4 linked regions of the Homo sapiens genome follow. The protein of the gene in region 3 purifies or fractionates together with the protein of the main gene of each other region. This does not show direct contact. Each region holds a gene or a part of one and is shown on either strand. Other genes may lie near its edges. The genes, in order: KLHL25, RSPRY1, EMID1 and YTHDF1.

What was found.
Region 1: the proteins of EMID1 (region 3) and KLHL25 purify together in Homo sapiens (affinity purification with mass spectrometry; 4 studies listed by BioGRID and IntAct, with this or other methods). This does not show direct contact.
Region 2: the proteins of EMID1 (region 3) and RSPRY1 purify together in Homo sapiens (co-immunoprecipitation; 2 studies listed by BioGRID and IntAct, with this or other methods). This does not show direct contact.
Region 4: the proteins of EMID1 (region 3) and YTHDF1 purify together in Homo sapiens (affinity purification with mass spectrometry; 3 studies listed by BioGRID and IntAct, with this or other methods). This does not show direct contact.

What each region holds. Positions count from the first base shown.
Region 1 is NC_000015.10:85,791,470-85,799,588, forward strand, and holds the start of KLHL25 (kelch-like protein 25), read right to left. Parts: upstream 3,457-8,119; 5' UTR 3,297-3,456; intron 3,215-3,296; exon of another isoform or gene 1-3,214. UniProt on the Homo sapiens protein: Substrate-specific adapter of a BCR (BTB-CUL3-RBX1) E3 ubiquitin ligase complex involved in various processes, such as translation homeostasis and lipid synthesis.
Region 2 is NC_000016.10:57,189,329-57,197,183, reverse strand, and holds part of RSPRY1 (RING finger and SPRY domain-containing protein 1 isoform 1 precursor), read right to left. Parts: intron 1,126-7,855; exon of another isoform or gene 528-1,125; intron 1-527.
Region 3 is NC_000022.11:29,200,952-29,208,895, reverse strand, and holds the start of EMID1 (EMI domain-containing protein 1 isoform 1 precursor), read right to left. Parts: upstream 3,001-7,944; 5' UTR 2,858-3,000; coding exon 2,757-2,857; intron 1-2,756.
Region 4 is NC_000020.11:63,198,662-63,206,516, forward strand, and holds part of YTHDF1 (YTH domain-containing family protein 1), read right to left. Parts: intron 5,147-7,855; coding exon 3,626-5,146; intron 1-3,625.

The sequences.
Region 1 (8,119 bases), on a different chromosome or scaffold from region 3:
GGGCGACAGAGCGAGACTCCTTCTCAAAAGAAAAAAAGGTTAATAAGCCACACACATCTATCGTTTATCATCCAACAGGGTGCTGGGACAGGGCTTGGAAGGAAAGCAGGAAAGGTTTAGCAGTAAGAAAGAGTGGCAAGAGAGGTAGGGGGCGGGGGTGAGGTGACTGGGGACTCAGGGGAGGGCTGCAAGTCAGCTGCAGAGCAACAAGCACCCAACCTCAATTCTGCACCCAGGGAACAAAAACAAAAAAGGGAAAGGGGAGCCCGGCATGACTGACACCCACTTGGTGCCAGACCCCATTCTAGGGGATTCTGCATAGTATGGTGGTTAACCTTCACCATACCCCTGAAAAAAGCTAACAAAGCTCAATGAGGTTAAGGAACTTGATCACAGACCCACAGCATTTGAACCCCAGTCTGGTGCCAAAGCCCATGCTCTTTCCACTGCTCCTGGGTTAAAAGGACTTAACAGGGAGCCCTTCCTATCCCCAAACCCCTTCGCTTCCCCACCTAATCCCACAGCACCCCTTCCCCAGTTTCTAACAGCCCCAGAAGGACCTGGAGGCAGTATGGGATGATTATGCCTTGAAGATGACAGGTGTCAGCTTTTGACAGCTTTAGGTTGGTATGGCAATGAGGTGGTCAAGGAAAGGGGTTGGAACCTACTGTAGGGGCTGGGCTGACTTCCATCAGCTGGGGATAGCTGCTGATTGATAAGTCCTGTTGGGATGCTGTGACTGAAAGCTGTGGATGCTTAAGTTCTCCCTCCTCCCTCCTCCCCTGCACCTCCCTCCTCTACCCCCAGCTTGTTCCAACTAAGTGTTTCCTGGTGAGGAAAATGCTTCAACAGCCTTGGCTGGCTGAGGCAATTAAATTATGAAATTTACCACATTAGATGAAAACCAGCATCTCAATCAACCAATTCATTTGTGTCTGGCCACTCTGTTTTCTTGTGCCAGCTCTGCCCACACTGGCCAGGCTATGCCTACACTGCCTGGTGGTACAGAGGGACTAGGGGCTCAGACAATGGGCTGGTCTTTGGGACCAGGGGGTAGGTTCTCCCAGGACCCCCAGAGAAGAGAGGCTGCATCCAGAAGCCATCCAGCTTCCTACAAATGCGCTGGACTGCTGACTGTGCGGCCAGACACTACGGACGAGAGCAAACCTTCTACCACCTCCCACTTGCATTCTCCATGGCCTCAACCTGTGCCTATCTTGAGGCTGGCAATGAATTGGGCCTCTGGGAGAAGTGTGGGTGAGCGACAGGACAAAGGTGGCTGCCCTACACCTCGAATCTGGGCGATGACATGCCTTTCTCATCTTAGTCAAGGCATCCTCTCCCCAGGAAGCCTTGCCCACCTGTGTCTCCTTCTCTCCTCTTGCTGCCTCTATCACTACGATGTGTCAGGGCCCCTAATCCATGTGCCAGCACTCCCTCATCTAGGTGCTCACTAAAGGAAGAGTCTCCAGCACCTAACTCAGGGCCTGGCACACAGCAGGTGCCCAATCAAGTCTGTTCAAACAATGAATCAATCAATCAATCAGTCACAAACCACCCACTAAATAACACTCTCACTCATCCTACCCTTCCCCCCGCCCCCGCCCAAGTGATAGACGGGACGAACCAAGCTTGCTTTCACTGGGTAATTGTTCTCTTTTCTTCCTGCTCTCTTCTGCCCACACGGGGTGCCCGCAGATTTAAAACGCTATTAAGGGGCATCGGGCTGCAGAACCTGCTTCCGATGTGGAGCATGCAATTTGCCTATAGCTCTTCTCTCCGCACCACATACATAAATCCAACTGCAGCCCAAGACCCCAGGATGAAGGTGTCTTCCATTTCTACCTCCCTTTTATCAACCACCCTGGAGTCACTGCCTGACAAATGACTCAAAACTGAAATAGCTGCCAGGCCGGAAAAAGACTGACTACGTCAACCTTCACAGGCACAGCTTGTGGACCCAAGAGCCTCCGGTCTTGGGACACCAAATGGACCCTGAGGTGGGGTAGACTTTGTGTCCTACTCTTCCCCAGACCCCCACGCAAGCCTTCACCAACATGCCAGGAATCCTCACAGCTCAGATCAGCACACTGAGCATCAGTTCCTCCTATGAATGGGGAGACTGGGACCCAGGGTCCCAGAGGGCTTGGCCCCATAACGGTCACTGGAATCTGGTCCAGGATACAGACCGTGGAATCCTGCCTCCTCTCCTGGTGCTACTGCTAACTTCCTTCCCTTCCTCTCTCTATTGGGCCGATAGAGTGGAACCAAATGGTCCAGACACCTGGCATTCTCTGCCCTGACTACCGAGGAGAGTCAAAGTCCAGCCCGCCTTCCCCAAGGTCAAATTCACCGGGATCCAGCAGGACCCAAGAGCGTCCAGATTAAATCTGCAGGGGCCTGGGTCCGCCCCCTCACCCACAGTTCGTTGGGTCAGGCCTCTAGAGAGATGTTTCTTTGTTCAAAGACAATGGGAATGCACTTTGGGGGCTTAGAGCAGCAACACAAAAAAAGTATCTGGTATCTCCCGGGCACAATCCCCCAAGAGAAAAGCTTCTAAAGCAACTACGAAAGAGACAGGGGGAGTGGGGGCGTAACATCGCGCGGTGTGTCTCGGAGCCAGGGCAAGTGTGGTAATTAGAGTCAGGCTAGAGGGCTTGCTCTGGACCTGCCAGTCTGGCCGCCACCCAGGTGGACAGGTGGGTGTGCCTTTGAGTGCGACCTTTCTCTGCCGCTGGACAGTTCTGCAAACCGAAACGAGGGACCCTGGCAGGCGGAACGTGAACGGCTCGGGGCTCCGCGGCCAGGCCCGCGCAAACCCTCCCCTTGTGAACCCCGGGCCCTCGCTCTGCGCCAGGCAGGCAGCCATCCGGCCTGGGCGTCCAAGGCGCGGGGCATCGCCGCTCGCGTCCTCAAAGACAAGCAGTCTCTCTTTCCAGGATCAATAGTAATTTTTTAAAAAAAAGAGTCTGCGGACTCAATGAATCAACCACTCCCTGGGGAAAGAGTAGCGGCTCCCGCGCGCAACATCCATTTGCCAAACAATTCATTCCCTCGCGCAGAGCTCTCGGCGAATTCCCTCGCGGAGCCGCGGGGTGCCGGCCGGCCGCCGCTCCCCACCATTGTCCCAGGGCCCCGGCCCCAGCCGCGGGGCCCCCTCCCGGGACACGTAGTCCCGCGGGGGCTCCGAGCGCTTGGTCCCGGCCCGGCCCGGGGTGGTGAGTCCCCAGCGCAGGGAGCGGGGGCGCGGGTGCTGCGGCCAGAGCACGGCGTCCCCGCCCGGCCTGGATACTCACTGCCGGAGACGATCCCCGCCGCCGCCGCCGCCTCAGAGACCACTCCCGGCAGCCCGCGCGAGCTCAACAGGCTCCGCCGCGGCTCCCGTCGGCCGGCTCTCCACAGGCAAAAACGCTCTCGCTGCGATACAGCCTAGGCGCCGCCAACAAACTAGTTTCTCCGGCCTTCCCGCCCCGCCTCCCGGCCCGAAGAGCAGCAGCCAATCAGAGGCATCGCCTCTGTGACGGATGGGCAGCCGAACCCTTCAGTGCAGCCGCAGAAAAGAAGGGGGTGGGCCCCAGGCCGCGCCGGCACCGGGGGGTGGGGGGCCGGGGGCGGGGAGGGGGGGGGACCGGGGGCGGGGCGGGGCGAGGAAAAGGACTTCGACCAGATTCTTAAAGAGACAGGCGCCTGCCCAACCCCGCCGCCCAAGTTTGGGAACAAAACGCGACGGTGTTCTAGAGCTTTCCAGAGGGAGCACTGTAGATTGCATATGCCTCTTTTGTGTTCGGGTCACAAGTGTTGTAGATCTCTTTAGACTCTTCAGAGCCACACTAGTAGTTGCCCGAGTGTTAATGAAACCCTGTCTTTCACTCTGGGCTTGTTTGAATGTTTGGGACTTTCTGCAGCCTCCAAACCCCACCTGTACTTGAAATCTGTATTTTTTGGAGTATTTCAGCTCTCCTCTCTGTGTCATTTCTCACTAAACTCCTTTCGTAAGCCAGCCTTTAAATGTTCGTTCATTCATTCATTCATCCATCCATCCAATAATTTCTTCCAGGAACGTTTCCTGGACGCCCACACCATGCACTCATCTTGGAGGGGGAGAACGGTTTGTGATTCTTCGTCCTTTTCCCTCCTGACTACTACTTCAGCTTACTGTGTGTGTCCAATCTCATCCGTAAAGCGGCAGATAAAAACTCCTCATCGGATTATTTGGGGGATTAAAGGAGACAAATTCCCAGACAAATGAGTGCGCAATAAATGTCCTCTCTTTTCTCCCTCCCAATGAAAATCGATAATTCAAGTAGGTTGCTTAAGGATACAAAAGGTAAAGCATAGAAAGTGATAAGAACGAAAGAGCCAAGCCTGGGGCGGGGAAATTCCCAGGAAGCAGAGGTCACCCTGACGGAGGTGGAGGTGGGAGGTGCAAGGAAGGTCTAAGAAAGTGTACAAAGATTTGGGAGAGGGGATAGGATTGTGACTAGTGGAACCTGGGAAATAGAGCCCCTGGGTAGAAAGCTGCTTAGACAGGACAGATATGCCAGGGTTAAAAGACTGGGAGATGATGAGAAGATACCACCAGGGAAGGCATTTTTGGGAAACAGCTTGATGTTCTGGGTTTGAAGCCCCGCCCTGCCCCTCAAGAGCTGGGTAGGACTGAAGCAGATGGCTCAGACTCTCTGGTGTCTGGTTCTTACTGGTGAAGAGGATTCTAAAACCTTTCTTGCAGGGGTATGGGAAAGATTAAGATAACATATGGAATAGGCCTGGCATGTAGTAAGTGCTCAGTACAGATTTGTGCTTCCATTTGGCCCAGATCTGCAGACATCTAAGGCACCAGGGTTCTGATATTTATGAACAATATTGGCCAGAGGTAAGAAGCTTGCCAAGTGCACTGTTAAGGTGCCTTCTGAAGAGAAAAGGTAGTGAGAGGTGAAGCCAGCTGGACTTTCTGGGTCCAGTGGGGACTTGGAGAACTTTTCTGTCTTACAAGAGGATTGTAAAATGCACCAATCAGCGCTCTGTATCTAGCTAGAGGTTTGTAAAATGTACCAATTAGTGCTCTGTAGAAATGCACCAATCAGCACTCTGTGGCTAGCTAGAGGTTTGTAAAACGGACCAATCAGCACTCTGTAAAATGGACCAATCAGCAGCACATGGGCCTGGACAAATAAGCTAATAAAAGCTGGCCGCCCCCCAGCCAGGAGCAGCAACCCACTTGGGTCCCCTTTGGCGCTGTGGGGGCTTTGTTCTTTCGCTCTCCACGGTAAATTTTTCTGCTGCTCACTCTTTGGGTTCACGCCACCTCTAAGAGCTGTAACACTCACCGTGAAGGTCCGCAGCTTCATTCCTGAAGTCAGCGAGACCACCAACCCACCGGAAGGAACCAGCTCCAACACATTAGCATCAAAGTAATTACTTCATTAAGGAAATGACAGAGATCACATTTGTAGTTTTATCCTGCCGATTTTCTAGCACTAGAGTGTTTATAGAATTGTTGGTTGAATGAAGCTCCACATGCAAAATTGATTCTTGGCAAGTTTATAACTGTTGCTTATTATTTTATGCAGGTTCGCTGTAAAATTATAAGTGCCAACCGCCCAGTAAAATCTGGTCCACATTATAATTTTTTCTCTCTTCAACTCCAAGGCTTAAATTAGGTACTAGAATATATTAAAATCAAATACAGTGTAAGCAATGGGACAAAATCAGACTAAGAACACGTGTGGAGTTAATCGAATTTAGGTACGATTTGAAAGAAGATGAGAGGAAGAGCGGAAGTTTGCCTTGCCATCTATTGCGGACCCTGGAGCATTACCGTCAACGCAGCCCTTACCAGCCAGTGTTGTAATGGCCTGCTTAGCTAGTCCACCTGCTGTGCAGGGAGCTCTGGGAGGGCAGGGACCATGAATTCATCTCAGAACTCTTAGGGCTGCATCAAAGTTGTCTACACAGTTTTGAAATACTGTGAATAAATCTCATATCCGTTAGAATTAGTTTTTACTGCATATGACAGAAAACCCAAAATTAACTGTGACTGAAACAAGATAGAAGTTTCTTGCTTATGCAAAATAAAGCTAAAGTTAAGCTATCCTTTGTTGGCAACTCCACAGTTGTCAGAAACACGGGCTACTGTATTTTTATTCCTTCATCTGTAATGCTTGGTTCCCATTTGCAAGGTTGCCCCATAGTCCAAGATGGCTGCTAGGGCTCCAACTCTGACACCTATATCCCAGACAGTAGGAAGGAATAATGGCGGAAGAGCATGAGATGTGTGTCTTCCAGCCTGGTTAGCTCTATTTATGCAGACTGCAGAAGTCCCACACAACACTTTTGTTTATGGACAGAATTTAGTTTTCCTACCTGCAAGAGCAGCTGGGAAATGTAGACTTTTATGTTAGTACATCACCTCCTCAAAGTCAGGGTTCTGTTAACAAGGAAGAGGGAATAGATGCCTGTTGTCCACCAACAATCCTTACCAATACCTTCCTCCCAGCATTGCCATCTAGCTAGTATTCCTGGTGGCCCAGAATCTGAAGTCTCAGAAATTCTGGGATGATGTATAGAATTCAATATATGTTCGTTAATAGATGATCAAATTCTTGGTTCTTTTTTTTTTTTAAAGATGGGGTTTCACTCTTGTTGCCCGGGCTGGAGTGCAATGGCGCAATCTCAGCTCACCACAACCTCTGCCTCCCGAGTTCAAGCGATTCTCCTGCCTCAGCCTCCCGAGTAGCTGCGATCACCAGGCATGCACCATCACGCCTGGCTAATTCTGTATTTTTAGTAGAGACGGGGTTTCTCCATGTTGGTCAGGCTGGTCTCAAACTCCCGACTTCAGGTGATCTGCCCACCTTGGCCTCCCAAAGTGCTGGGATTGCAGGCGTGAGCCACCGCGCCTGGCCTCTTGGTTTCCTTTCTACCTTCTCAGGTGTTCTTTTTAGTCTCCTCTGCTGATTCCCCCTCACTTCTCAGACCTACAAATATTGGAGCGCCCGGGAAGCGAGCGTAGGGAGCATAGGGAGATAAGAAGACCTATTCCCTTCCCTACCTACACCTTCTAAGTGATTTCATCCAAGCCCATGCCTTACGTTCATATAAGCACTGGCAACTGCCAACTCTGTGCTCCCACCCCGCCTTCTCCATAAGCTCCAAGCCCATGGGTGCAGCTGCTTACTGGGTATCTCCATGTGCATGTCTAGGGCACCTTACCCTCAAACTGTCTCCGCTGAGCTCCTATGGCTGCTCTCCCTGTGGGCTTCCCCATCTCAGGAAAGGACAACGCAGTCTTTCCTTTTGTAAGATAAAACTTGGCATCATTCTCTCCTACCCCATGTCCAATCCATCAGGAAATCCCTGTTGAGTCTGAGTACTTACTACTTCCACTGCCACCCCCAGGCTGGTCTAGAGACACTGTCATTTTCTCTCCTCTGTGACATTATGGCAGCCTCCAGGCCATCTCCCTCTTCCACACTGCTCCCATAGAATCTGTTCTCAACACAGCAGCCAGAGGGATCTTTTTATAAGATAATTTCGTTATGTCTGTCTACCCCTCGAAATCCACCAGTAGCTCCCACCTCACTCAGAGTGAAGGCCAGAGTCCTACCATCGGCCCACAAGCCTGCCCTGGTCTGGCCTGGGCCACTCTCACACCTCAACTCCCACCTCCCTGTTCCTGACCCTGACATGCTCTGCTCCAGACCCACTGATCCCTTTTCAAGGCCTCAAACAGGCCAAGCCCACTCCCACTCAGGGCCTTGCCCTTGTTGCTCTATAGGATTGCGCTCCCTCAGAGGGCCACATGCTTCCCTTCCCCGCTTCCTTCTGGTTTCTGCTCACATGTCACCTTGCCACCTAGGCCCTCCTGACCACCCTGAGCAGCCACATTCCCCACTCCTGGCAGGCCCTCACCCTAGTCCATATCTCCAAGGCACTTACTTCCACCTGAAAGTATATACACATACACACAGAGACAGAGAGAGAGAGAGAGAGAGAGAGAGGCAACCCCTGGCAGGGAGGAGCTGGCCTGCATGCATAGCTAGGCCTTGGTACTCTCATGTTGAACATAAACAATGTCCCAGACCATCAGCATCAGAAAAGAGCACTCTGGCCAGGTGCG
Region 2 (7,855 bases), on a different chromosome or scaffold from region 3:
GAAAGCTAATCAATTACACTTTAGACAATTTTTTGTTTCATCCATTCAAAAAAAGCTTTACGTGGCCCACTTTCCAAGGACCACTGCTTTAAGACAATAAAACTGAGCTTACAGATTTTACACACAATACCAGAAGCCACCATAGCACAGTACACACTCTGTTGTCAGACTAGGTGAAAGTCCCAGCCCTGCAATATTTACTGATACACGTCCTAATTAACCTGACTCTTGACACATGTTAAAAAACAGACATAGTAACAGTTCTTATCTCACAGTACCACTGTGGGGATTAAATGAAATAATGCATGTAATACGCATGGCACAGTGCCTAACATTTAAACTGGATCAAAAAAATGCAAGATGTTACAAAATGAGCACATATCTAATCAGAAATAACTAAATTACCTGGGGGAGAGGGATTCTGGAGTAAAACTTGAGTTAAAAGCACTAAGAAAAGTAAAGAATTTATCTTTTACAGAACTACCCCGTACTGAAGTAATTTTTACTTTTCTATAACCTATACTTACCTATATTTTCAGACAGAGAATCTTGGGAGGGATTGTAGCTTGATCATCCCATAGACGGCATTAGAATCACTTAGAGTACTTATTAAAATGCAAATCCCTGGTCCCACTACGAATAGCCAGAATCAGAATTTCTGGGATGCCGGCCCAAGCTTGTGTTTTCTTAAAAGCTCCCCAAGTGACTCTGATGGCAGCCACATTTGGAAATCACTGTGTATAGAACCTACCACAGAACCTGGCACAGCAGGAAGGACACACCGACTGAACTAGGGGGCAAACTGAAATACTAAAGGGCATTTCTTCTTGGGTCAAAAATGTTAATTTCCTTGTCCAGTAAAATGAACTGAGACTATCTTTGAATGCAGTCTTTTGGAGAGGTCAGCCTAAAAAGCCATTAGAATGGTTATATCCATAAGTGACATGTACAGTACATATCAACACAAAGGAAAAAATGGCTCCATATATTTCCCATGAGGTCCATCTTACGAAGCATCAAAATGAACCTAAATGATACGCTGCTTAAGGATATCATCAAGGGTTAAGAGACTGAACGGAATAGAAAATGAGTAAGATGAGATTATATAAAGGCAACACATCTGTAATACCTATATATATATATATATATTTTTTTTTTTTTTTGAGATGAAGTCTCACTCTGTCGCCAGGCTGGAGTCCAGTGGTGAGATCTCGGCTCACTGCAACCTCTATCTCCTGGGTTCAAGTGATTCGCCTACCTCAGCCTCCCGAGTAGCCAGGACTACAGGTGCGTGCCACCACGCTCAGCTAATTTTTTGTATTTTTAGTAAAGACGGGGTTTCAATATGTTGGCCAGGCTGGTCTTGAACTCCTGACCTCATGATCCACCCACTTCAGCCTCCCAAAGTGCTGGGATTACAGGTGTGAGCCACCGTGCCTGGCCAATACCTATATTCTTTACCTTAACTTCAAAGACAACATTAGCTGGTGAAGTCAACTTTGAGACAAAAAAAAAAAAAGCTAGTCACACAATTTAAATACACATCTGTGACAAACATCAACTGATTTAATAATTTTTATCACTGGATGCCAGTGCTTAGTAGAAGGACTCTTCTTACCACCTAAGTGGCAATACTTTTAATATGATTATACTTTTTTATTTTTATTTTTTCAGACGGAGTTCCACTCTCATTGCCCAGACTGGAGTGTAATGGTGTGATCTTGGCTCACTGCAACCTCCATCTCCCCGGTTCAGGCGATTCTCCTGCCTCGGCCACCCGAATAGCTGGGATTACAGGTGCCTGCCACCACGCCTGGCTCATTTTTGTACATTTAGTAGAGATGGGGTTTCACCATGTTCACCAGGCTGGTCTTGAACTCCTGATCTCAGGTGATCTGCCCACCTCGGCCTCCCAAAGTGCTGGGATTACAGGTGTGAGCCACCATGCCCAGCCTAATATTATACTCTCGATAACAATTTTGCTGCAAGAGCATAATTATGATCGAATATTTCCTTTGCAAATCTATTTCTCTGAAGTGTGGTATTATTAATTTTGATTCTTGCCTTTTTAAAAAAGAAACTAAAGACTATTCTCTCCATTTCTATATTATTTATTAGATTTTTACATTTTACATGTTTTTTCATTTTTCTTGGGGGTAAATGAAGCACCTAACGCTTTATATTTTTTTAAAGCTGCTCTGAGACAAAAAAAAATAATCAAACTTAGGGTCTTGGTAAGCTTGGTGTTAAAGCAGTAAGGTTCTGGTACTCACTGTCTTTATAAAACACAGACCTCTACCATCATAAACAGCTCACCATGGAGACATCTGGCCAACTAGTCTAACCCTCTCTGACAAATGGTCCAGGAATCAATGATTCATCTCTTCAAATATTTGCTTGCATTCAGCCATAGTACAGATCAGTGAGAAAGAACACTTTCTTTTCTTTGAAAATAGGACTGCAGAATTACACTGCCTAGGAAGGAAAAGCTGATTACAAGAGTGACCATAAAGAAGAAAAACCAGACTTTGGGCACTAAATTACTATTGTTATAATCTTCACCTTATCATTCCAAAATAGTGTTAGAGGATGTGACTTTTTTTCCAACCCTCCCCCACAAAGGCTAAGTCAAATAGCATGAATAGCAAAATGTGTAACATCCTGAAAATTTTAATGATGTTCTCTCATTAGAAAATGTTTTCGGATTTTTCCCTAAGTGTGTTAAAGAGATAGCTTCTATCATCACATTTACTCCCCACTCCCAATATTTTATTATGAAATTTTCCAAACATACAGAAAATTGAATTAGAGTTCACTGTAAACTGTGAACTATATACCCACCACCTAGATTCTACTACTAACATTTTACTAAACTTGCTTTATCCCCACCACCTAGACTCTACTACTAACATTTTACTAAACTTGCTTTATCGCTATCCATCTCTTATCCATCATTAATCCATTCAGTTTTTTTTACATATTTCAAAGTAAACTATAGGCATCAGTATACTTTCTCTTAAATAATTCAGCATGCATATCACTAATTAGACTTCAATAAACTTCAAGTTTTTAGGAGTCGAATTTACATACACTGAAATGTGCAAATCTTTTTTTTTTTTAAACGGAATCTCATTCTGTTGCCCAGGATGGAGTGCACTGGTGTGATCCCAGTTTACCACAAACTCTGTCTCCCGGGTTCAAGTAATTCTCCTGCCTCAGCCTCCTGAGTAGCTGGGATTATTGGCACATGCCACCACACCCAGCTAATGTTTGTGTTTTCAGTAGAGATGGGGTTTCACCATGTGGGCTAGGCTGGTCTCAAACTCCTGACCTCAAATGATCTGTCCACCTCGGCCTCCCAAAGTGCTGGGATTACAGGCGTGAGCCACCGCACCCGGCTGAAATGTGCAAATCTTAAGCACAGTAACGTGCTGAGTTTTATCAAATGCATATACCTGTGACTCAAACCCTATCAAGATAGAGAACATTATCTAGAAACATATTTGCTTAAAAAAATACAAAAATTAGCCAGGCACAGTGGCGTGTGCCTGTAATTCCAGCTACTTGGGAGGCTGAGGTGGGAAGATCACTTGAATCCAGAAGGTGGAGGTTGCAGTGAGCCGAGATCATCCCACTACCCTCAAGCCTGGGTGACAGAGCAAGACTCTGTCTCCAAAGAAAAAAAAAAAAAAGCCTGCAGAACACCCCAAAGACCACAATCTTCTTACTGAAGATTGTGTTTAAATAGGGAAAATCTCAAGTCAACAATACTGATTTGGTAATGCATGAAGATTACACTTGCCAGCTGAAACAGAAACTACCTAAAGATGTTTCAACAAGAGTGTTTCTGTCTTTAGACTCTAAAGCCTCTGGTATTTCATTGGGGAAGGTAAGAAGGGGGTAGATTGTGAAATATTTGGTTGGAATTTTACTTTTCCCACAAAAAGAAAGGTTGTCTTGATGAGGCGTTTTTACTTGCCTCCCAGATGTCCAAAGCTATCTAACCGTAGGTTTAGGTCACACAGAGTACCATTAACTCCTGAACTGTAACTGTCAAGAAGTCTGGGAAAAGCACTGGATGATTCTGACATTTCCCTTATGCACTGAGGATCTTTAAGAAAGCACACCTTTGAAAGTAGGTATTTTTTTCTGGTTGAAAGACTATCTGAGCAGGGCATGGTGGCTCACACCTGTAATCCCAACACTCTGGGAGGCCAAGGCAGGCAGACAGCTTGAGCCCAAGAATTTGAGACCAGCCTGGGCAACATGGCGAAACCCTGTTTCTACAAAAAATACACAAATTAGCCAGAGTGGCGGCTTGGACCCTATAGTCCAGCTACTGGGAAGGGCAGTGGGAGTGAGGGGTGGGAGGATCGCCTGAGCTGGGGAGGTCGAGGCTGCAGTAAACCATGATCGCACCACTGCACTTCAGCCTAGGAGACAGAGTGAGACCTTAAAAAAAAAAAAAAAAAAAAGAGTCTCTGGAAAAACCTTCCTCTAAAAAGTTGAGAGCTTTTTTAACCTAGTAGCAGTGCATCTGTGGTCAGAAAGAATTACAGAATATAGTCCTGACCTAAAATGGTACAAAGGAGAAAAGACAAATCCTTTCAGCATTCAAATAATTTACTAAAAAATAAAATTTAGGCCTAGGATAGAGTAAGGAATTTCCGGAAGCAAATAATAGTAAAAAAGGGGAAGTAAATAATCCCTGCCTGAAATCTTAAGGATTGAAAAATTTGCCTTGGACTCCCAAAAAATACTAAGGAAGAATTGAGGTAAATGCTTATGACGGTTGCAGTACAGGGAAGAAAAACAAATGTAATATTCCGTAGTACTTGTGGTTTTCCCCCCAGGAGGCCAAATAATAGGAGATCATGTGTTATTCAAATATACACAAATCTGAAGGAAAAGGATTTTTCTATTACAGAAAACTCTCTGCTCTTAAGAAAAGCAAATAAAATATATAAGCAGCATGAATATCAACATTTTCCTTAATGATGTCTACTTTAAATGATGTCTAAAACACTCATACTGCATACTCATTTGGATACTTATTAGACCCTAATATGTATTCAATAAATATCTTAGGTGAATTTATTCTAAAATCTGTAACATAAAGTCTCTCCAAAATATTTACCATTTTGAAAAACTGAGACAACACCATTCAATAACTATATATCCAATGCTTATATGGCAGGCAGTGAGGAAAGACGGAAAAAGGTCCCTCATGCTCCTGACAAAGGGAGCTGGGGTTAGGGACAAACTTAGCTCCCTACCCAAAGACTACAGATAAAGCATCTACTAGAAGGAGGCCTCTTGTTCCATCAGTTTTCCAGTGTAAAAGGAACTTTGGTAACACTGAAGTACCTCTGTGTGAGCAAGTTTTTAGGTGACTATACAAATCAGCAATAGCAAAAGGGGACTAGAGAATCTATCTTTGCATTGTAACACATTTATGTCTTACATTATAAGCCAAAATATTGTTGGTATAAATATTCCTGCCCACACAATGAAAAGTAAACAAAAAAACCTATAAATTAAATTGATAAAGATGAAGTTAAATAAAAATTCTAATAAAAAAAGAGGAATCATGATGAAAACTGACATTATTTTGAGACAATTCAGATGATGCACCCCAAACTAAGCATACTTCCTGAATACTGCAGGAATCCCCATTCTGCATATGACATGTGAGAAGCTTGTATTGGTGCCAGGTTTCCCAGGACAGACTTCCTGGGCGAAAAAAGTATTAAGAGACCACAGTAAACTCCAATATTGTTCTAGTTTTAGGTTATGAATACCATGTTTTAGTAATCCTTAGTAATTCACTTGGTAGGTTATTAATAAGTAGCCCTTAGGCATACCTAAGTATGAACAACTATGAAGCAATAAAAACTTAAAAAAACAAACAAACAGTGCTATATTTCCCATGTGGAGGGACTGGGCAGAAACCACATCTTGAGAATCACTGCATTAAGGGAACACAAGAGCGAAAACAATTCTTCAGGAGGTAGAGGGGTAAGAAAAAACTAACACTGAACATTAAACTATGAGGTAATATACTTGCTGAGTAAGGTATTTCAAACCTTCTATTTGAGGTACATAGGACCTATGAAATTACGCCTGGAAACTATAATTTCAAGCAACAAGAAAGCTATGTGCAGAGTTCATTCCTTAACAAATTTAAGGAGTACATAAATTCCTTACTATTTCAAATGTATTCTCAGTTTTCAAAAGCTCAGAAACAAAGCGGAATGTTCTCTAAGAGGCCACCACTATTTATAAGATAACTTTTCCTGATTTAACCTTGTATATACCACACATTTATCTAAAGTTACTACTTTTACATATTTAACCAGCAACCACTCCCTTTTGGAATGGACACATTTGTATGTTTTCTCTACTCACAAAGGTTGGCAAGAAAAGGATTTCAAAAGCTGACTTACTGAATGATAAACCAAAGGGAAATATTCACTCCTTTGCACTTCTAAAAGTTGTAAAAGTCCCCTCCAAAAGGCTGTTGCCCAAGTTACGGCATTTACTACTTCGTGATTATTCTGCTTTTCAATTTTCTAATTTGAATATCAGGGAAAAAACTACCCAAATTCAATGATAACTGCCTTGAAAATGCCAAAAGCTTGAAGAGAAGCTAAATCCATAGTTTATTATCCCCAAATAATTCTTTTGAAATAGATTGCTGGTTCCACTGTGTTTCCCATTTGTGGTGACTACTGACTTTCCACTTATTTTGCAATCCTGAGACTATCACACCCCACTTTACAAGTATCCTACTAAAAAATACAGAACATTTCCTATTTATTTATTTGAGACAGGGTGTTGCTCTGTCACCCAGGCTGGAATGCAGTGGCTCACTGCATCTTCAACCTCCCAGGCTCAAGAGATTCTACCACCTCAGCCTCCCAAGTAGCTGGGACTATCTGCATGTGCCACCACGCTGGGCTAATTTTTGTATTTTTTTGTAGAGATGGGGTTTTGCCATGTTGCCCAGGCTGGTCTTGAACTCCTGGGCTCAAGTGATCCTCCCGCCTTGGCCGCCCAAAGTGTTGTGATTATAGGTGTGAGCCACCATGCCCAGCCATAACTTCCAATCTTAAGTAGTGTAATAGTGATTACTACCTTCAAGAATTCCTAACATTTTCTCCAAACTATATAGAGTGTGAAAGAAAGCTGTATTTAAAAAGATGCAAAGGGATTTCCCACTTCATTAGAACAAATTACTTCATTGTTAAGGAAAGCATATACAATTCTCAACAGACTAAATTAAGCTCACGAGGCCAGGCATGGTGGCTCACACCTGTAATCCTAGCACCTTGGGAGGCCAAGGTGGGTGGATGGCTTGTGCCCAGGAGTTTGAGACCAGCCTGGGCAACATGGCGTAACCCTGTCTTAAAAAAAGTGCAAAAATTGGCCAGGTGTGGTGGCTCGCACCTGTAGTCCCAGTTACTTGGGAGGCTGATGTGGGAGGATCACCTGAGCCTGGGAGGTAGAGGCTTCTGTGAGCCGTGATTGCACCACTGCACTCTAGCCTGAGAGACAGCATGAGACCCTGTCTCAAAAAAAAAAAAAAAAGAAAAGAAAAGAAAAAGAAAAAACAGAAAAAAAGAAATACAGAATAATTGTTTGTTAAACTCTTGACAAAACACACTTTTTTTTTTTTTAGCCTCCAGGCCCCACAGTGCTACATAACTCAGATTTGTTGTTTTTACCTGATTCACTACAGATTAACACACTATTATACAAAATGCTAAGTTTTTATTTCCCTTTGATACTTACTAAATGAAAAGTTATTTTGCTGACAAAAGCAGAAGCCCACATAGAGTATGCTGGTATACCT
Region 3 (7,944 bases):
GCTTCACTCAAATCCCTTAGCACAGCGCTAACAGCTATTGTTCATTCCTGTTCCGGGACTGAGGGGCTCAGGCCCAGACATGGGCCCCACACCCAGCAGCTTGGTCCAGGGGCTTCCCTGGGGATTGGGGACACCAGCACAGTACCTTCTTCACAAGGTCTTCCCCTTGGAATAGGGATTATCAGGTTCTGCATTTTACAGAGGGGGAAACAGGCTCCAAGAGAAAGCACCTACCCAGGTCACCCCTGTGGGCATCAGCTGGGATTGCAGCCCCCTAGACAGAGGCTGGGGCAGATCCCCTCCATTTTAGAGCCCTCCATTCTCCCTGATCCTAGGATTTGCCGGAAGGAAGCCGGTGCTGCAGGGGCGAGAGATCTGGGCTGGTGAAGGCTTGAACCCTCAGCTGAAACGCTGAGATGAGTGGTTAAAGGAAGCAGACTCCAGGCTTAGAAGGACCTCAGCGGGGCAGGAAGCAGCCCCAGGGGCAGGGGCAAGCCAAGGCAGCTCTGCATAGCCCTTGGGCACCCTGGTTCCGGGGGTCTCCAAGTGTCACCACCTTCCTGGGGCAAGGGGCGGCCCCCTGGATGCCTTCCCAGGCCACCCCCTCCCCAGGACAAAGCCTCTTTTCTGCGTCTGGTCCCTTGGCTGCCAAGGGGTGCCTGGGGTGCTGGGGTGTGGGTGGCAGGAAGGCTGACAGGGCATGACACCCCCATGCTGTCTCCAGCAACGTGGGGATGGGGCCACAAGTGGAGGTTCTGGTAGCCCACAGACTCCTCAAGCTCCAGGTCCCTACCCCCATGTGACATGATTGATAGCAGGAACCACTGCAGGTGAGGCCCGGTGCTGGTCCTTCCCACGAGGAAAGAAGGAAACTGAGAGCAAAACTGAGACCCATGGCCAGGAAGTGACCCACTTGAGGTCACACATCAAGCCTGTAAGAGCAAGGAATTCTGTCTCCATTCTGTCCAAGGCTGGAGCCCCTAACTCCTAATCATGACTGCAAACCTTTCCTGGTGCCCCCAAGCCGACAACCTCTTTCCCTCTTCCAGCAAGGCTGCTGGAGAGAAAAAGCCACTGGATTTGGAAATCGACTGGTCTGGACTGAGGTGCCACTTGTCCTCTGTAGGCCTCAGCCTCCGTATCTGTACAATGGGTGCAATAGTGTTGCCCACAGGGTTTTTGGGATGCTCAGGCTACTGTGATAGGCTTCTGTCAACACATGGAGTGACAGTCCCCAGTGACCACCAGATACCTGGTTATAGCCATCATCCTGTTCCCACCCAGGAGACCCTGGGAGGTGAGGAGCCCAGGCTGGGAAGCCCTGCCTTGAACTGGCTGCAGGGCGGTCTGGGCCTTAAGCTGTCGCCACCATCATCCTGAGCCTAACAGTGGGATTTCTGAGTTCATAGTCTCTGTCCTCTTAGCATCTGGGATCCTGGCGGCTCACTTCCATGCTCTGGGCAGGTCATGTTCCCTCTCTGAGCCTCATCTTCCTCCTCTATGAAACAGAATCATAAAGAGCATACCTCCAAGCAGCTGGGAGGATTCTGGAGCTGATGAATGCAGGTAACGGAGCCGACTCAGGCTAACTGTTGTCTGCACACAATAGGTGGTGGCTGTAACATCTGCCACACGTCCACCCCTGTCTCAGACAACTGCTCTTCTGGCCTCTGATGCTTCAACCACCTCCGTCCTCCAGCCCTGCCCATGTCAACTGCTCTTGCTAGCCCAGCAGGGGCATGCTGGCCCCTGACCACTGGGAAAGGAGAATTTCTGAAAAGAATTAAAGAATTGAGGCCGTAGGGGGTGGGGGCCGCGCAGGCCTTTGAATGGGATGAAAAGGCCTGGAGAGGCCTGGCTACTCCACATTGTCTGCCTTGGACAACGGCGGCTGGCCTTTAGGAGGGGACCCTCGCTGGGGCTGCAGCCAGGACAGAGGCCAGGACAGGTTCAAACACTGTCATCAAGGATAGAAGGGCAGATTTGCAACCTAGCTCTTCAGTGAATAGCCCATGAGGCTAAAAGATGATGCCAATTCCCTAGGGTCTCAGTTTGCTTAACCGTTGAATGGGGACAGTTTTCCCTACCTCATTCGGTCCTTCAAGGATTGATGAGGACACTATATATAATAATGGGCCCCACCATGTCAGGTTCTGGGAGCTCCTCCGTAAAGGCCAGCAGGGAGGAGGTTCCCCGCCGCTAGGAGAGCAGAAGGAAGACTGTGCTCCCTCTTTTCTCTGTCCAAAATGCCAGGTCCCTGGGGTATCTCCGACACTGACCCACTGGGCTGTGAGACTCCACCCCAGTCCCTCCTCCGAGGGAGATAAATAGCCTGGGTACAAAACAAACAAACAAAAAACAAAACAAAGCAAAAAAACAGGAACAGGGAAAAGGGGAGAGAGGGTCCGAGAAGAGTCGGCTAGGGGGTGTCATAGGCCTTTCCCAAGTGCAGGGGGAGGGGCCCTAGGGACAGGGGAACAGAAGGGCCAGGGCTTCGCCCTCGTTGCGCCCCTTCCCCCTCCTCTCGAGCTCCTGGGTTGAAAGGGAGGGAGTAGGGGAGGCAGCCAGCTCCGACACATGGAGTAGGGGACCCCGCACTCGCGGGAGCCTCAGCCGGACCGCGGGATGGCCGTGTCCCTGCCCTCACCCGGGCTGGGGACTGGATCGCCCTCCAATCCCAGCCCTTCCTGGAGGTGGGGGCGTGTGCGCGCCGGGACCCTCGGCCAGCGGGGTGCAAAGGCGCCGGGAGCTCTTACCTGCGTCCGGAGAACGGAGCTGCCCCGATGCTCCACGCAGCGCCGCCTCCCGGGAGCAGGAGCCCGAGGCAGAGCAGCGCCCAAGCCCGCGGGCCGCCCATGCTGCACCAGGCGCCCTCCGCGCGCGGCCCCTCGCGGTCGCCGCCCCCAGCCTGTCCTCCCCGCCTGCCTGCCCGCGCCGCCAGCCGCCCCGGACGCGCGGAGCCCGGTTTCCAGCTCCGCGGCCGGAGGGCGGGCAGGAGGCGGGCGGGCGGGGGCGGGGGCGCGCGCTCCCGGCCTCGCCCGGCCCCTCTGCGCTGCCCCCCGCCCCCTGCGCCGCCGCTGCCAACCCGGAAGGAGCCCGGAGGGGCCCGGGCGGCCAGGGCGCCCCCGCCAGGAGGCCCGCCAGGTGTCCACCTGAGCCCCACGCCCTGCGCCGCGGGGCCCTTTTGGGGGCGGGGTGCCAGCTCCGAGGTGTCCTCCCACGGGCTGTAGACTGGGAAACTGAGGCCCGGGCCACGGTCCCAGACGCAGCCGGGACCCGAACCCACCTCACCTGAGCGAATGATATCCGGGACTCATCCTTTTTCGACACCTTTGCGGGATCCAGCCCTCCAAGGAAAGCTTCCTGAGCAGTGCGCGCCACGTGTATTGGGCACCTCACCGCGGCCACTTCACATCCTATCTCAGGTGACTCTTCAAGCCACTCTGCTCGAACTGGGCACAATATCCCCATTTTACAGAAGAGAAAACTGAGGCCCAGGCACTCGCAGTCTCCCTAGGAGGAGATCTGGGCTGACCCCATAAGTGCAGAGTCTGTTCTTATTCTCATTTTACAGGTGGAGAAACTAAGCCACAGAAAGGAGCTGTCATTTACCTAAAGCACCGTGGCAGGGGTTTGGCAGAGCCAGGATTTGTACCCAGATCGCCTGACTTCGGAGAGTAACAGCTCTTAACCACAGCACTTCGGTCTATGCCTTGATTTCACCATATGTAACAAGGTAAGAATTGGTGTTGGGTGGTTTCATCTGGGGTACATGGATGGGCTTCTGGAGGAATGGCTCTACATCCCACAAAGGTATATGTAAGCGTAGTGTGTGTGTGCAGGGGTGCATGTGTGTGTCGTATGTGTGTATGATGGATGTGTGTGCATGCTTGATGTGGATTTATGTGCATGTGTGTTATGTGTGTGTCTGTGATAGGAGTGTGTGTTTATAGGGAGAGACCAGAGCTCTCATCAGAGGGGACCCAGACCCCCAATCTCCCAGGGCAGTCTCTAACCCCGCCTTCTGCCTGGATCGATGGGCAGTAGTTAGGCCTGGGCTGGGGAAGCCCTTGCCCAGCTTGGCTACTTCCTGTTATGGCTTGTCCAGACCCACGGTCCCTTCTAGAAACACTCCCCAGAAAGGATCTGCCAGTCACTGGATTGCCCCTCCTGGACTCACCAGGGGCAGGCAGCATAGGCCACCATAGGCAGGCAGGCAGGCAGGACGGGGGATCCATCACCAGTGTGTCCACATAGAGAAAGCTGTTGCCCTGTCCCAAGGGACAGGTAGTGAGAGCTGGGTTCAAACCCTGCCTCTGCTACTTCTGCTCCAGTTAGCTCAGGCAAGTCTTGCCCCTCTCGCAGCCTCAGTGTTTCTTTTGCAGGGAGGACAGTTGTACATTCGTTACAGGAGTGTGGGAAGGATTGAGATATCATGGTAATGGCCTGTCACCCACTCTCCCCTACTTCACATAGTCCCCCAAGGGCTCCCTCTCCCTCCAGCGACATCACCATGGTGCCAATGTTGCCCCCTTGGGGAGCTGTTGCCCTCCTTTTCACGTGAAATTTTGGCACATCTCCTGTGCCATCTCTCTGACCTCCAAGAAATGCAGCTTTGTACCTCTCTGGTTAGCCCTTGTTTTTGACACAGCTAGATCAGTGACTTAACACCCTGGATAATTCGTCACTCCTGAGGAGCCATGCCCCCAAGAGGATGCCAGGCCTGTCTGAAACCCCAATCAAGCGGCCCAGATAAAAACCCATCACCCCAGGGGTGCTTTGAGCTGTTTAGGAAGCTCAAACATGCAGCTGTTTAGGAAGGAGAAGCACTGGATAATGCCTTGGAGGGACTGAGAGGTGTCTAGGGTGTCAGATGGGTGCCACAGAATGAGGAGGCACTACTAGGTCTGTTTGCAACATGTCTGAGATGCTCCTGCGATTAATGGCATCCACATTTCTTAACCAATGCCATCAAACTTGTGGCAGACTCAGGCCGCTGCAGAATTTCCCCAGCAAGAGACTCTCCTGGTAAAAGCTGTTATCAACATTTTCACATCAGAGAGGGGCCTGTCCTTACTGAGGCTGGGATTCCCGGGTCCAGGGTATTTATTTATCACTGTAGACCCGGATAAATAAATATAGATTTATTTATCACTATTTATCACCTTGTGGCTGTGTGGCCTGATGGATACACCCCACAAGCCATGTGACCCATAGGCCAGGGTGTCAATTCCAGAGCAACCTCTGGGAGCTGTGTGACCCAAGACAAGTCACTTCCCCTCTCTGAGCTTCATTTCTTTGCCTGAAAAAACAAGCCATGGGATCTTCTTTTTTTTTTTTTTTTTTTTTTTTTGAGACAGGGTCTCACACTGTCACCCAGGCTGGAGTGCAGTGGTGCCATTTCCGCTCACTGCAGCCTCAACCTCCTGGGCTCAAGCGATTCTCCTGCCTCAGCCTCCTGATTAGCTAGGACTACAGGTGTATGACAGCACATCTGGCTCATTTTTAATATTTTTTGTAGACACAGGGTCTTGCTCTGTTGCTCAGGCTGGTCTCGAACTCCTGGCTTCAAGCAACCCTCCCACATAGGACTTTTAAGGTCCCTCTGGCTCAAGAGTCTGAGCTTCTGGGAAAGTGTGAAAACGTCAGGTCTCCCCTTCAGTGGCCCTGGGGCACAGCTGAAGCCCCCGTTTAAGGGCTCACTTTCCTGTTGGATGACAGCCGGCTTTCTGGTCCTCTTTCCTAGTTGAGTGGAAAGGCAGGAAATGCCGTGGGGGCCTGGGGTTTTGATTATTTGAGGTTTCAATGTTTGCTGAAACTGAGAGGAGAGGGGCCGGCTAGCTTGAGGTCTCAGGGCCTGTCCCTGCGGGCGGGGCCTCCCCCCTGGGGGCCTGGTCCTTTCCACTGCCAAGACGAGACCACAACCGCCAGTAACGACAGCAGCTTCCGTTCCCCATGCTGACTGTGCGCCAGGCGCTGTGCTAAGCGTTTTGCTTGTATTGTCTGCTGCGATCCTCTCTGCCACCCAGGAGGAAGCCTTATTGTCCCCAGGTGTGGGGCTCACGGCTAGTGAGTGATGGGCAGCTGTCTATGAGTTTACCCACCAGACCACACTGCCACCCACTGGCTGAGCCCTGAAGCAGGTCTTCTTTGGGGTAAGAGATAACTTGGCTCACATTTGGAGTCCCATCTTGGGGCTGATGAGGCCAGAGAGAATGTGTGGACACATACCCAGACCTGGACCCACACCCAGATGGACCACACAGGGACACACACAGACACCCTCCCAGGGCAGGCCATGGGATCCGGGAAACACAGCCCCTCTGGGGCAGATTCACTGACGCATCCACCCTGGCCTAGTCCAAACAGGAAATGTTTTATCCTCTTAACAAACAACCTGGGCGGCAGCCTCCTTCCCCTGTGAAGTCTCTGGGGGCCGTAGCTAAGGGACTCTTTCCTCCCGCTGTGTCCTACAGGACTGTCTCTCCAGCTTGGGTGTGCCCCGTCATATCAGCCCTGTGCACACATTAGCTCGTGTGAGCCCAGGCACTCTTCCCATATCGTGCCTGTTCCATAGGTGAGGAAGCAGCCCAAGGGGTGCCCAGAGCCCATGGCCGCAGCCCCCAGGGGCCCAGGCCTAATTGCCAAGCAGTGCCTGGACACCATGAAAGGGAAGGGACCGTGTAAGCCACAGCCTTAAAAGCTGCTGACCAGACAAAGGACAGGGCCCAAGAGCAATGGCTGCTCTCTGCACTTTTGATCAGGGGGTTTGGCCCTCCTGTCCCTGGCTCTCAGAGATGGAAGCACCCTGCAGGGCCAGGGTCGGGGCGCTGGGAGACCTAGGCAGCCTGCAGCTGCCCAGCCGAGTTATTTATGCTCCATGGAGCTGCCCTTCTCATTCACCCAGCTCATTCTTTCCCCAGAGAGCTGGGACTGGGGCTGGAAGGGAGTAGTGGGAGGAAGGAAGCTGTCAGAAAATCATAAATTAGGGCTTGGGAGGGCCTTCCTGTCCTCTGGAATCTCCCGTTTTGCATCTTTGAGGGGGGTACAGGGGGACGACAACAGAATGACAGGGCCGGACATAAGCGAGCATGGCAGGACAGGGTACCTCTTGTTGGAGTGAGGAGACCTGGATGTTCTATGTGATCTAGAGAGTCCCTTCTCTCCGAGCTTCGGTTTCTGCATCTGGAAAATGGGGGTGTGAGGACTCGGGGACTTTCCTGCAACTGTGCTTTGTTGACTGCAGGAATGGACAAATGAGAGGCTTTCTCCTTAGCAACGTTTGTTCCCCCTTCCCCTCCTCTGGCAATTTCTCCTAAATCCTCCCCTTTCTGACCCCCCACCTCTGCCCTACTTGCCTTCTCTCAGGTCCCTTCCTCTGCTTCTCTTTCATCTCCTCTTGCAAAAATGGATGAACAGTATCTCCATATGCAGCATCCACCCAACTAGGGGGTAGAGGGAAGAGCTCTTGGCTCATTCCTACTAGAGTGTGAATGACTGATGTGTTTAATGTTTAATGTTGGGAGGAGGGGGAGTTAACAGGGCTTCCTGCCATTTAAACCCTAAATCGTTGGTAGTGGAACTTCTAGGCTGGTGAGGGAAATGTTTGGTGACCACAGCCTAGGAACGTGGCCTAAGACCTTCTGTATGGGAAGCTGTCCATCTCCCACCCCAGCGAGGTGAAGCCCACTCCCGGCTGGATGCATCTGAAGTGGCAGCTGTGAGTCCATGTGGTTGGACGGATCTGGCAGGAGGGAAGGGCAGACCAGAGAAGCCCCTCAGAGCAGAGGCCCTGGAGCAGCCCACCAGCCCTGCCAGTCCCGGGTGGCACCTGCCGGGTCATGAGCATGTGGGCCCGCCCCACCTGACAGCTCCAGGATGAATGGGGAGGTAGTGGTGGTGCTGAGAAGCAGGAGGAGAATGAGAGTGGTGGGGACAGAGGAG
Region 4 (7,855 bases), on a different chromosome or scaffold from region 3:
CTCGTTCTTTTGAGGAATGCTCAACAAGCATCCAGGAAATGCTTATGGCCTAAGATTCTCTATGCTCTTTCTTAATTTCCAAAGTCAAAGAGCCACTCTGCTGAGCCGGCCTGGAGGTCGAAGTGGGGTCAGGTCAGGGGCACCTGCCGCCAGGGCAAGGACAGTCAGTCTGAGGAACTAAGCAATGCTCACAGTGTGGGACGCTCACCACTTTCACTGTTTTAAGCTAAGAAGTGGCCGTTTCTAGGTTTTTTTAAAACCAAAAAATGTATCAACCCAGGACTTGGTCTGACTCTGCTGCCATAAAAGCTACTGCCATCCTAAGAAATCAGTATGTTTCTAAATTTATAGCTGGACAGCAATCTTGCAAAATGCTAACTCTACTTCACTTTCTCAACACTCAACTTGTTTATGACCTTTACAGCAATGGGGCCAAACTCTAAATGATAAAGAAAAGGTGGGTCTGTTCTTCGAAGTCCTGAGAGAACCTTGAGAAAACCGCCCGGGGGCTCTACCAGCACAGGCGCACAACCCTCTCCTCGGCACACTACTTTGTTCTTAAAACTGCACTGACTCGGCCGGGCGCAGTGGCTCACGCCTGTAATCCCAGCACTTTGGGAGGCCAAAGCGGGCGGATCACGAGGTCAGGAGATCGAGACCATCCTGGCTAACACGGTGAAACCCCATCTCTACTAAAAGCACAAAAAATTCGCTGGGCGTGGTGGCAAGGGCCTGTAGTCCCAGCTACCCGGGAGGCTGAGGCAGGAGAATTGTGTGAACCCAGGAGGCAGAGCTTGCAGTGAGCCGAGATCACACCACTACACTCCAGACTGGGCAACAGTGCAAGATTCTGTCTTAAAAAAAAAAAAAACAAAACAAAACTGCACTGACTCTTCATGGGAAACCCAGAGGGAGAAAGCATTAGACACCCAGAGTCTCAGCCTCAAGACACCTAAGACTCCAATCCTGGATGAGCCACTAGCCCAGCCCGTTAAGCACAAGGCCTAGAGCACCTTCGCAGGCAGGGAGAGCCAGCAGCGAAGTCCAGTCTGGGGACCTCCTCAAGGACCACTTCCATTTCTCTACACTGCCCAATAAGCTTAAAAGATATTTGACGCCGGGCACAGTGGCTCATTCCTATAATCCCAGCACTTTGTGAAGCCAAGGTGGGAAGACTGTTTGAGCCCAGGAGTTCAAGACCAGCCTGGGCAACATAGCAAGACACTGATTCTACAAAAAAATACAAAAATTAGCCAGGCGTGGTGGTGCACGCCTGTAGCTACTCAGGAGGCTGAGGCAGGAAGACCGCTTGAGCCCAGGAGGTCAAGGCTACAACAAGCTGTGATTAAGTCACTGCACTCCAGCCCGGCAGACGGAGAAAGACCTGTCTCAAAAACAAAAACAAAAAGCTATTTGAGGCGGGGCACGGTGGCTCACACCTGTAATCCCAGCACTTTGGGAGGCTGAGGTGGGCAGATCACTTGAGGTCAAGAGATCGAGACCAGCCTGGCCAACATGGTGAAACCCTATCTCTACTAAAAATACAAAATTTAGCTGGGTGCAGTGGTGGGCGCCTATGATCCCAGCTACTTGGGAGGCTGAGGCAGGAAAATGGCCTGAACCTCGGAGGTTGAGGTTGCAGTGAGCCAAAATTGCACTACTGCACTCCAGCCTGGCTGACGGTGAGATTGGCTCAAAAAAAAAAAAGCTATTTGAAATTCCACCAAACATTAACAAACCAGGTTCTCATTTGTCACTTTCAATAAAATGAATTAATGTTAACACTGACCCATATGGGCCCAGAGTTCTCCAGCTTGGCTAACAGTTTAGGGGAGGGTTACCAAGTTCCTTCCAATGATGCTCCACCAGCGGCTCTGTTGGACTCGCCTTGGAGCACCCAGTGGTTTGAGGAACACTTGGATCTTGCCTGCAGGCAGATGCCCACAGACCCTGCAGGCCGCTTACCAAGATGCTTAACCCATAACCCGACACACAAAAGCAGTTATCTAGATCAAGTTTTTATAATGCAAGTTGTAGGACACTAGAGTTTTAAAAACACCAACCAGGTCAGGAGTCCGCACACTTTATGAAAACCCAAGTATTACGGTATTTAAGAAGAAAAACTGTGCGCGCACACACACACAGCCAGCTTCCAGTTTAGCCAGCTAAGGACCTAAAGCTTCATTAGCAATTATCCCTGCAACTTTAGCAATTCAGTATTCATTTTATACCTAAAAGTCTGTAATCCGAGCTATTGTCTGTAATCCCAGCTACCTGGAAGGCTAAGGCAGGACAATCACTCGAACCCAGGAGGTGGAGGTTGCAGTGAGCCGAGATTGCGCCACTGCACTCCAGCCTGGGCAACAGAGCAAAACTCCATTTAAAAAAAAAAAAAAGACCTAAAACACAGAATTTCAGTAACTAATTCAGAATTCAGTAACTGGAAATAAATGACATCCACTTCTTTTCTCACAAAAGAGAGGGACTGATACTTTTCCAAAGTTCTACAAGCCCCAAGTTGTTCAGGACTTGCATAATGTAAGACTGCAGACAGTGCAGGCGGCTCTACTCTATACATCCCTATATATGCCATGTACACGCCTTTCTGCCCAAAATACATTAGGACACTTGGTGCTCACAGGTGAATAATTCCTTTAACATAGAGAACTGAAAAAAACACTGAAAACCCATCTATTATCAACTGACATTTCAGGAAGGGATATTTTTTAAAAAGCAGGAGAGAATCTCAGGATGAACTCTCTCGAATAAAGGAAGCATTATGAAGTATGTCAGCATCATCATTTTCCCATTGCTGGTGCCAGTTTACGGGCATCTGAGCCCTTCTGAAGAGCAAACACACTCAATCCCGTCAGACATCACATGACAGCACAGACTCAGGAGTTTGGCTACAAGTATCCCAGGAAATCAGGACTGTCTCAAAAAGGCCCAGTCAATGAATTTTTGATATAGGATCCATATTTGTCATTATAAAATGTCTGGATTCCAAACCTACCCCACCACCACCATTTTCTTTACGACCTAGATGGAGTGAGTTTGTTTCCAAAAACTGCAGGATACTGGGTTTTTAAAAGAAAAATAAAGCAACGACCTCCAGATCAAAGACCAGAGATTCCCAACTACTGAGGGACAGTGCCCTGGGAAGCAAGGGCCCTTGGCCAGGTGGGGTCTCGATGCCCTACGTGCCCACCGCAGTGCTTCGTGAATATCACCTAAGTGTTCCTCATGGACGGAGGCTGGGAAGCACTGTTCCAGAAAGTATCACAATTCAAAAAGGAGAGGAGAAAGTTACCCTCAAATTCTTTGTAACAGAAAAACAGAATGTGTACACTGTGGTCCCAATTATTCAATTATAATTGGAAAGTGATCAAAGTCGTTCGGTGACATCTACCCAAATACCATCACTGGTTACTAGCAGTACTCTCCGCAGGGAAAGCCCACGAGGCTGCCAGGACCTGGGCCCGCCCACCTGCGGCCAACTGGGAGCTGCCTGTCACGAGACTCAGCTCGGCGGACCTGCCGCATCTGCTCACCACCGGGCCACCTGGTCTAAGTACGGCACCAAGGACACATCTGCATGGCAGTTGCCTGCAACACCCAGCCTCACCTTGCGCACCACCTCCTCCTCCTCCTGGCGCTTCTCGTAGTGAGCAAAGTCGTCGAAGATGGAGGTTGTGTGCTTGTAGGAACTGATAATTTTCAGCACTTGCTTGGCTTTTTCTAAGGGCACCTCCTGGGTGTCCCGGGAGTTTGTGACCGGTTTGTTGTCGTTATTCTCCAGCCTGATGTGCCGGAGCTGGTTATTGGGTACATCCTTAACAAAAATCCACTGGACATCAAACTTCCCCTTCCACTTGTCCTGAGACCAGACCCCGGCACTGGTGCCGTAGTCCACGGGGGACTTCATCTCGGCCACCCCACAAAAATGCCCACTCCCATTGACGCTGAAGAGCAGGTAGACGGGCCCCTTGCTGCTCATGCAGCGGAAGGCGCTGTCCAGGCGCTTGTTGCCGTGCTCTGTGCTACACCAGATGGAGTACTTAATGGAGCGGTGGATGTCGTCCTCAGAGTAGCTCTTGATGATGAACACACGCCCGCTTTTCAGATTCCACTCAAACTCTTTCGGGTTGTAGCTGTGAGCAGCCTTCAGTTTTTCAAGGACGGGGTGGGATTCGACGCTGGGGGCAGAATTAGGCTGGACGTTTCCAGGAGAGTTGCTATCGCTGCCAGCCCCTCCGCTCTGCCCAAACGCCGCGTTTCTGTTGCGTGGGGCAACCCAGCGGGTCTGGGGTGGCTGCTGAGGGCTCTGATACTGCGGTTGAGCCAAAGCTGGGGGCTGTGCTGGGAGAGGCTGAGCCACCTGCTGGGGCTGTGGGGCAGCCTGTGGAGAGGGTGCCTGCTGGGGGACTGGGGCCTTCGGCACAGGCCCCTTGTTATCCCAGGTGCCAATGTCCATGTTATGCTTTATGGGTGGAGGGGGCAGCCCACCCCCCATGACAGGCCCGCTCTTTGTTTTCATTTTAGGCTGTGGTTTTGCAGGCTTGCTGGCAATGGCAGCCCACGAGGTCGGCTTTGAAACTGGCATGTTCACATTTGTCCCACCGTTGCCAGAAAGGACACCAGTCAGTGCCACGCTGCTGACGACAGAGCCCACCGTCTTGACGGCGGAGGAGCTGACGTCCCCAATCTTCAGGCCAACCATGCCCTGCTCCAGGCTGTTCATCCCGGGGGCCTTGCTGAGGGTGTCGCTGTGAAAGCCTGGCTGCCCATCAACCACCGTGCCACCCAGGGAGCTCGGGGGGTAGGTGTAGCTGCTCCCATACGCGGAGCTCTGGGTCTGCTGACCTTGAGACCCACTTGTCCCCCATGCTGAGAACGCAGGGTTTTCAGGGAAAAAATTGAACCTGTGCTGATAGATGTTGTTCCCCAGGCCCCCAGGCTGCCCAAAAACAGCATCGTGCATAAAATGATGGTCTCCGTTACTGAGCTGTCCGTAGGTGGTGAGGTATGGAATCGGAGGGTCCCCTGCAGTAGACCACGGAGCCTCATTGAGGGAGTAAGGAAATCCAATGGACGGCGGGTAATAGCTGGACAGGTAGGGGTCGCTCATTGAGGGGTAACTGTTACTCTGCAAAAGCAAACGTGACAAGTTACACCACTTCTACAACACGAGATGCTGAGAATGCCAACCGCCTCTTGCTTAAGCACAGGTGGAGCAAAAACAAAACCTGCACAGCATGGGGCTACTCCTTCCAGAAAGAAAGCTGTAGTCGCCAATGTGAGAACCAAATCAAGACAGAGAAATTAATAACGAACACAAACCAGGGTGCCGTCTCAAAATACGAAGCATCATTGGCAAGGCTCTGAATTCAGGCTAAATGACGAAGCTATGCCTCTCTAGAACTGGCAAGGTAGCAGCCCCCTCTACTCTTACCTGCAAAGGAATCCAGAGGTAGAGGAGTAAACCCCTGCCTGCTGACGACAACGCTTATGACAGACACGGACGGCATCATGGGAACTGAAACAGCTTTGTAAGGCAGAGATATTTCCATTGGCAAACCAGGATGTGCAGGGCCGTGAGGCAGTTTGCTCCAGAGAACAGACCCCAAGCTCGCTGATTACTCAGCAGGCCCTGGGCGCCCACCTCTGGGCCTTGACATTCCTCCTGGGACACTCTCCCATACCTGGACCAAAGCTCTCCCAGAATCCTTCAAGGGTGCTTCAGAGGCTCCTTCCACACACCCTTCCTAGCAGATGGCCCCTGCCTCTAAGTCCAAGGGGGTTCACATTCCCATGATTTCCTGGGCACAGCGTTGGGCTCTTGCAGTAGGCCCCTGCACAGAGGGCCCTGGCTGGCTCCAGCTCCTCAGCCAAGAGAAAGCATCCGAAGTGTGGACTCTGTGCTCCGGGTGCAGAGCAGCCCTCACTCTGGATGCCAACTCACCTGGGCTTCCTTATGAAAACATGTCTGTGTAGTGACTGGAACCTCAGAGAGTGGTTTTAAAGTGACGGAACCATGAGGCAAAAAGGTCTGCTAGAGAAGGTGAGTGCCTGAGTGCCCCATCGTAGGGGTCTCTGAAGAGCTGCCCAGGGCACAAATTTAGACTGAGGGTCAGCAGTTCTGGGACGGCATCTCCTTGGAGAGACTCAACTAAGGGTCTGGTCATGATTGGGTCCCTCCAACACTGCCTTAAAATGACTTTCGTGTGAGGTGTGTCTGTATGTGTGTGCGCACACACACCTGTACACAGGCCGGTGAGACGGGGTCCAGTGTGAGGTAAGAAGGCTCCCACCTAGACGCATCGTCTGAGAGTGCCAAGATGCTATTACAGAAAACAGAGCCGGAAGTAAAACACGGGGCTCTCCAGTCTGTGACGCCCGTTTTTGGATTTTTAGTTTTCCCGCTCCCCGCCCCCCAGTCCCCCAAGTAACCAGAAGGTTCTACATAAAGAGAATATGCTCCAGACCTCATCTCACAACCTCATCCCTGCCACATTGACCTTTCATGTTGGCATCAAAGGCTACACTATGAAGGATAACAGCACCCAGTCGGGGACACCAGGTGGGAAAGTAGCTGAGGCAATGAGGGAGACTGTGGGATCCCAGACAATGAAACAGGCCTGCTTCACTGGAGGGGTGACCACAAGCAGCTCTCCCTGGGGGCAGTGCCCCAACACCAGCCAACACTGGTGGACTAATGAACCAATGACCCGGCCACCACTTCCTGCCTCCTGCTCCCATCCTAGAATACTGAGGGCTTCAGAAATCCAATTTATTTTCTAATTTTCTTCCTGTTGACTTCTCCACTTGTGAGCAGACAATTCCAGAACCCCCCCCTTTTTTTTTTGGGACGAAGTCTCACTTTGTCGCCCAGGCTGCAGTGCAGTGGCACGATCTCAGCTCACTGCAACCTCCGCCTCCCAGGTTCAAGCGATTCTCATGCCTCAGCCTCCCAAGTAGCTGGGATTACAGACACCCACCACCACACCCGGTTAATTTTTGTATTTTTAGTAGAGACAGGATTTCATCATCTTTGCCAGGCTGGTCTCGAACTCCCAACCTCAGGTGATCCACCCGCCTCGGCCTCCCAAAGTGCTGGAATTACAGGCATGAGCCACAGCGCCTGGCCCCAGAATCATCTTTTAAAATGCACTAACTGCTGTTTCCCCGTAATATAAATTTGAGATTCTGGGGGTATAAGAAGACAAGTGGGATGCTATCAGTGTTCCACAAACATGAGATTAATCTGAGCTTATTCTCCCTCAAAACAGTTTCCATGATGCTGGCTCCTTTGCTGCAGCCTTTCCCTCGGGTGCTGCCCTGGCCAACAGGCCCAGACTGGGGGGGTGAGCGAATCAGGGGGGCGGTCTGTGCACAGGACTTGCTCCTCGAGTCACTGGCCGCAGGTGCCTTCAAGGACGGCAGGCAAGGGGACAGTCCCCCCCACAGGGAAGCCAGCCCTCCTCCTCCCATTAGCTGGACACGTGCTCCTCAGCAGCGCTGCAATCACAACACATCTTCCTTCCACGCAAAAAGAGCAGATGGGAAAAAAAGACCTCGATGGCTGTGTGGTATTCTAATCCACTTGGCCCCAACACCAACCAGAGGAGTCAGGCCACAGAAACAGATGCCCAGGGACACTTCTGACTTACACCTAAAGCCTTAACTAAGACAGGACATCACTTACCACATGAAAAAATCCACATTACATGAGGCATGTAACATTCCTGAAAATCCGTTTTAAGTATTAAATGGACACACCTAGCACACACGCTGCACAGACAGAGAGCCCATAAATGACCCATCCAGCTTCCCTCTACCCAAGGTGCAGGGCCTG